Linked DNA regions of Homo sapiens: region 2 is linked to region 1. The links come from fine-mapping of genetic effects on gene expression. A gene starts in region 1. The other region holds a variant in brackets. All regions are shown on one strand. Distances are from middle to middle.

Region 1 (2,802 bases):
CAAGAACAAAACTCCGGGGGCTAAGAGAACGCGATGATTTTTAAGCTGCCAGTTAAGATGCAGCTCCTTCATCATCACAGGTGAAGCACCAATGCCTCTCGCACGTGAAATCCGTACGCTCCTAGAGTCTTACTACCTAATGCATTTCTGCAATCTGGGACGCCTGTCCTTAGCGTCTTCAATAGTTTTGGGCACGAGGTGGACCGCGGAAGTATTGTATTGAAAAGTTAACGTTTTTCCCTTGGACACCCTCTCCTCACAGCTATTAACAAGCTGAGAGAAATCAGGTGACTCCCAGTCATGCAGAGGTTTCCTCACCATTTATGATCAAGCCAAATTAAAGAATAAAAATAAAATCCTATTGGCGCAGCGGCCACCAAGTCTTTGAGGCCTCGCCTCGGTGGGCGGGGCCGACGCCGGAGGAGAGGGGCTGCGCATGTGGGCGTGACCTCGCGGAAGGAGCTGCGGAGGGCGGGGCCGACTGGAGAGGGGCGGGGCTGTCGGGTGGGTGGGACCTCGCGGCAAAAGCTGCGGAGGGCGGGACCAACCAGGAAAGGACGGGACTGTCGGGTAGGCGGGACCTTGCGGGAGAAACTGCGGAGGGCGGGACCAACCAGGGAGGGGCGGGCTGTCGGATGGGCGGGACCTCGCGGGAGGAGCTGCGGAAAGCTGAGCTGGTGAGGGGAGGGGCTGGTCGAGGGGAGGGGCTGGTCGAGGGGAGGGGCTGGCCGAGGGAAGGGGCCGGCCGAGGGGAGGGGCCGGTCGAGGGGAGGGGCCGGTCAAGGGGAGGGCCCGGCCAAGGGGAGGGGCCGGTCGAGGGGAGGGGCCGGTCGAGGAGAGGGGTTGGTCGAGGGGAAGGGCTGGCCGAGGGGAGGGGCTGGCCGAGGGAAGAGGAGGGGAGGGGACGGGCTGGTCGAGGGGAGGGGAGGGGAGGGCAGGGGACGGGCTGGTCGAGAGAAGGGGAGGGCAGGGGACGGGGTGGTCGAGGGGAGGGGACGGAGGGGAGGGGAGTGGAGGGAGAGGAGGGAAGGGGAGGGGAGGGAAGGGAGGGGAGGCGGGGCCCAGCGGTGTCCCGCGAAACTGCCGCTCGCTCGGTTCCCGGGCCTCCCCGTGCGCCTCAGTGCAAAGCGTGCCAGGCACTCTTGACTGCAACGAGAGCCGCGGCGGTGAGGGGGCAAGGCCAAGAGGCCACGGTTCGCGTTTCGCCGGCTGCAGAAGTTGTTGCCATACATTTCAAATGTGCATTTCCTACGTCTCACGCTCTGTCTTGCGCCTCCACAGCGGGCCACGGCCCTGTCACCGCAGTCGCAGCCACATGCTCCCTCCCCTGAGTCGGCTCAGCTCTGCTCAGCGGTCAGCCCCGCGCCAGGAGGCCGCGGCCTGCCTGAGGCCGGCTCGCAGCGACTCGGGACGGAGGGCGGGGGCGTGAACGGGTCGCGCGGAGAGGGTGGGGGGAGCGGGGAGCGTTAGGGTACGTGGGGGCGCGTCGACCAATGGCAGGGCGCTGTTGAGTGCAGCGGGGCGGGGCCGGGCGCGGGGGTGGGGCGAGCGGCGGGCGGGGCGGGGCGGCCGGCCGGGGGGTGGGAGGAGAGGGGCGGGGCGGGCCGGCCGGGGGAGGGGCGGAGAGACGCCGCCGCTGCCGCCGCCGCCGCCGCCGCCGCCGCCGTGGCTGCCGCAGCCTCTGGGAGTCTGGAAAAGGGGAAGCGAGAGCAAGCGAAAGACTCAGTCCCCGGGCGGCGGCGGCGGCGGCGGCCGCGGGGGCGCGACGGCCGGGGCGGGGGCGCTGCTGCTGCGGGGGCAGGCGGCGGCAGGGGCGGCGGCGGCGGCGGCGGCCCGCTCCAGCCATGCCGAATAAAAACAAGAAGGAGAAAGTGAGTCCGGGCCCGGCCGCGGGACGGAGGGAGCAGGGAGGGACTGCCGGGGGAGGGCGCGACGGCACCGGGGTCCTGCGCCCGGGCCCCGGCTCAGTTCCCCGCCTGACGCCGCGGGCTTCGCGTCCCCGAGGGCGGCCGAGCCAGGCATCCCCGGGCTTCTCTCGGCCTCATGCCCGGTGGGGGCGGGGAGCCCGGGGATCGCGCCGGAGCCGCGGGGCGCAGGCCCGGGCCGCTGGGACCTTCGTGATGGGCCGGGGCTGGGCGTGGAGGGAGGGCGCGGCCCGGGGAGGGGGTCGGAGGGGCGCCCGTTTCCGACAGCGCGCCGTGGGCTTGGGCGGGCAGGTGCGGCCGCCGAGGGGGTTCGCAGCCTCGCAGGCTCCCGGAAAGGAGCTTCAGGGATGGGGGCTGTAGACGCCTGGGGAGGGACCCCTGTACGGGGGAAAGGGAGCGAGAAGGGACCCCGCTGAGAGCTGGTAAGGAATTCTCTGCCGCCCCGGAGGGACGCTCTGGGGCTCTCGAACACTATTATTATCCTGGGTGGCGGCGGCGGTGAGGGCTGCGAGCAAGGGTGCTGCGTTTGCATTCGGGGGGGCGGGTATGTTTCTGCTTCAGGTGGAGCTCTGTAGCGTTTCATTATCACCCCAGAAATCCTCACTCATAGGGTTTAGGGTGGGAGGGTAGAAAGGGATGTGATGTGGATCTCAAAATGCCAGAAGCACTGTATAAAATTGGATTTATCTGTTTTCTGCTTGAAGTTTTCAACCTCAAATGCAGATAAAACGAAAAGAATCTGAATGGGGGTTGGGGGGCATTGCACTGTTGGAATCCTAAACGGTATGATATAGAATTTCCTAATGGTATGAATTAAAAATATCAGAAGCTGTAGTTGTATAAATCACTTTTAAAACTGCATTTGGCTTATCTGATG
Region 2 (2,802 bases), 100 kb before region 1:
TCATTCTTTTTATATTTAAGATGTGTAAACAATTTTTAAAATCTTACATATTTACCATGTAGTTACCATTTAAGATACTCTTCATTCTTTTGTGTATATCCATATTTCTACATGGTACAATTTTCCTTCTACTTGACATTTTCTTTAACATTTCCTGTAGTGCAGGTCTGTTGGTCATGAACTCCTTCAGCTTTTGTATTTCTAAAAACCTTTTAATTTTTACCCTCATTTTTAAAGATATTTTCACTAAGATAGAATTCTAGGTTGCAGGTTTTTTATTTTAGTACTTTAAAGATGTTGCTCCACTGTCTCTTTGCTTTTTCCTCACTGTTTCCAATAAGAAATGTGCTATTATTTTTATCTTTTTTCCTATGTACATAATTTCCCACCCCTGACCTCTGGCTGCTTTTTTTTTTCTTGTTTTTGGGGGGATGGGGCTTTGCCATGTTGCTGAGGCTGGTCTTGAACTCCTGGGCTCCAGCAATCCTCCCACCTCAACCTCCCAAGTAGCTGGGATTACAGATGTGCACTACCAAGGCTGGCTCTCCTCTGGCTGCTTTTAAGATTTTTCTCTTATCATCGATTTTGAGTAATTTGATTATGATGTGCTTTGGAATAGTTTTCCTTAGGTTTCTTGTGCTTGGACTTCGTTAAGTTTCTTAGGTGAGTTTACAGTTTTTATCAAACTTAGAAAAACATTTAGCTGTTATTGCTTCAAATATTTTTTCTGTTCCCTCTCTCTCTTCTCTTTGGAACTCCAATTATCCGTATTACTCATATATTAGACCACTTTGAATTTGTCCTACAGCTCACTGATGCTCTTTTATTTGGGTTTATTGTAAGTGAAATGTTGTATTGGTGCACAGTGTTCCATAAAATGAAAGGTTGCTATCTTTGTTCCTCTTAGAAAGAGAAAATACCCTATCAGATTCTCTGTCAGAGCTTGCCTCCAGCTTCTGCTAAAAGTGCTTCTCAGTATTAACTATTTTTCCAATTTCTTCCTTGTGGTAAAATACATATAACACAAAATTTACCATCTCAACAATTTTCAAGTATACAGTTCAGTGGTATTAAATACGTTTTCAATGTTGTGCAGCCATCCATCTCCAGAACTCTTTTCATTGTGTACAACTAAAACTCTATAACCATTAAACAGTAACTCCCCATTTCCACCTTCCTCTAGCCCCTGGCAACCACTATCCTATTTTCTGTCTCTGTGATTTTGACTACTCTAAGTACCTCATACAGGTGGAATCATACAGTATTTTTTTTGTATGATAGGCTTTGTGTGATGGGCTTATTTTGCTGAACATAATGTTCTCAAAGTTCATCCATTTTGTAGCATATATCAGAATTCCCTTCCTTTTTAAAGCCAAATAATAATCCATTATATGTATACAGTTGTTCATCCATATCCATGGGTTCTGCATGCATGGATTCAACCAACCACAGATAAAAATATTT[G/A]AAAACAATTGCGTATGTACTTAACATGCACAGACTTTTTCCTTGTCATTATTCCCTAAACAATACAGTATACCTATTTATATAATGTTTACATTATATTAGGTATTATAAGTAATCTAGAGATGATTTAAAGTACATGGGAGGAAGTGTATAAGTTGTATGCAAATAATACACTATTTTACATTGGGGACTTGAACATCTGTGGGTTTTTTTATCCACAGGAGGTCCTGGAACCAATCCCCCATGTATACCAACGGACAACCTTATACATTTTATTTCTTCATTCATCTATCAGTGGACACTTGGGTTGCTTCCACATTTCAGCTATTGTGAATAATGCTGCTATTAACATGGTTGTATAAACATTTCTTTGTGAATCTACTTTCAGTTATTTTAGATACATACCCAGAAGTGGAATTGCTGAATCAAATGGTAATTCTATTTTTAATGTTTTGACAGATTGCCATACTGTTTCCCACAGTGGCTGTACCATTTTACATTCCCACCAAGATGGTACAAGGGCTCTAATTTCTCCACATTCTTGCCAACACTTCTCATTTTGTGTTTTTTAAAATAGCCATGTAATGGGTGTGAGATGGTGTTTCATCATAATTTTGATTTGCATTTCCCCAATGATTAGTTACGTTGAGCATCTTTTCATGTGCTTATTGGCCATCTGTATATCTTCTTTAAAGTAATATCTATTTGAGTCCTTTGCCCATTTTTTGAAGCAGGTTGTTTGGTTTTGTTTGTCTTGAGTTTGAGGAGTTCTGTATATGTTCTGAACATTAATATCTTATCAAATATATGATTTGCAAAATAGCTGTTGATTGCCTCTTGATGCACACAATTTTTCAATTATTATAAAGTCTAATAAGTCTATGTTTTCTTTTGTTGCCTGTGCTTTTTGTGTCATATCCAAGAAATCACTGCTAAATTCAATGTCATGAAGATTTTGCCCTGTCTCTTTTAAGAGTCTTATAATTGTAGGCCTTACAAGTAGGTAATCCATTTCGAGTTAATTTTTGTATATAGTTTTAGGTAAGGATCTGACATAATTTGGATATTTGTTCCCTCTAAATCTAATACTAAAATGTGATCCTCGATGTTGGAGGTGAGACCTAGCGCGAGATGCTTGAGTCACGAGGGCAGATCCCTCATGAATGTCTTTGTGCCCTCCTCATGGTAATGAGTGAGCTCTTGCTCTATTAGTCACCATGAGATCTGATTGTTAAAAAGAGCCTGGCACTTTCTCCTCTCTCTCTTGCTCTCTCTCTTGTCATTTGACACACTAGCTCCTGTTTCCCTTCTGCCATGAGTAAAAACTTCCGTAGGTCT

Which allele goes with the higher level. Positions count from the first base shown, and alleles are read on the strand shown. Sizes are in standard deviations (SD) of each study's normalised expression.
As copies of A replace G in region 2, the expression in aorta of the gene that starts at base 1,660 in region 1 goes down (moderate effect, 0.48 SD a copy in GTEx).

The links. PIP is the estimated chance that this variant, and not a neighbour inherited with it, causes the effect.
Region 2: its variant is fine-mapped to the expression of PPP2R5C in aorta (GTEx, PIP above 0.99). The same link has a PIP of 0.9 or more in lung, thyroid and tibial artery.

What each region holds. Positions count from the first base shown.
Region 1 is chr14:101,760,050-101,762,851 of GRCh38, forward strand. PPP2R5C (protein phosphatase 2 regulatory subunit B'gamma) reads left to right here and starts at 1,660. Exons shown (of 16, transcript NM_001352913.2): 1 at 1,660-1,871. The coding sequence starts at 1,845. RefSeq lists silencers at 506-615, 686-835, 896-945, 1,406-1,565, 1,576-1,815 and 2 more.
Region 2 is chr14:101,659,138-101,661,939 of GRCh38, forward strand. All of the region lies in intron 1 of LINC02320 (long intergenic non-protein coding RNA 2320), which reads right to left. Among named protein-coding and RNA genes, the nearest start is that of LINC00239, 70 kb to the right of the region's middle. The variant G/A (reference allele first, on the strand shown) is at 1,465.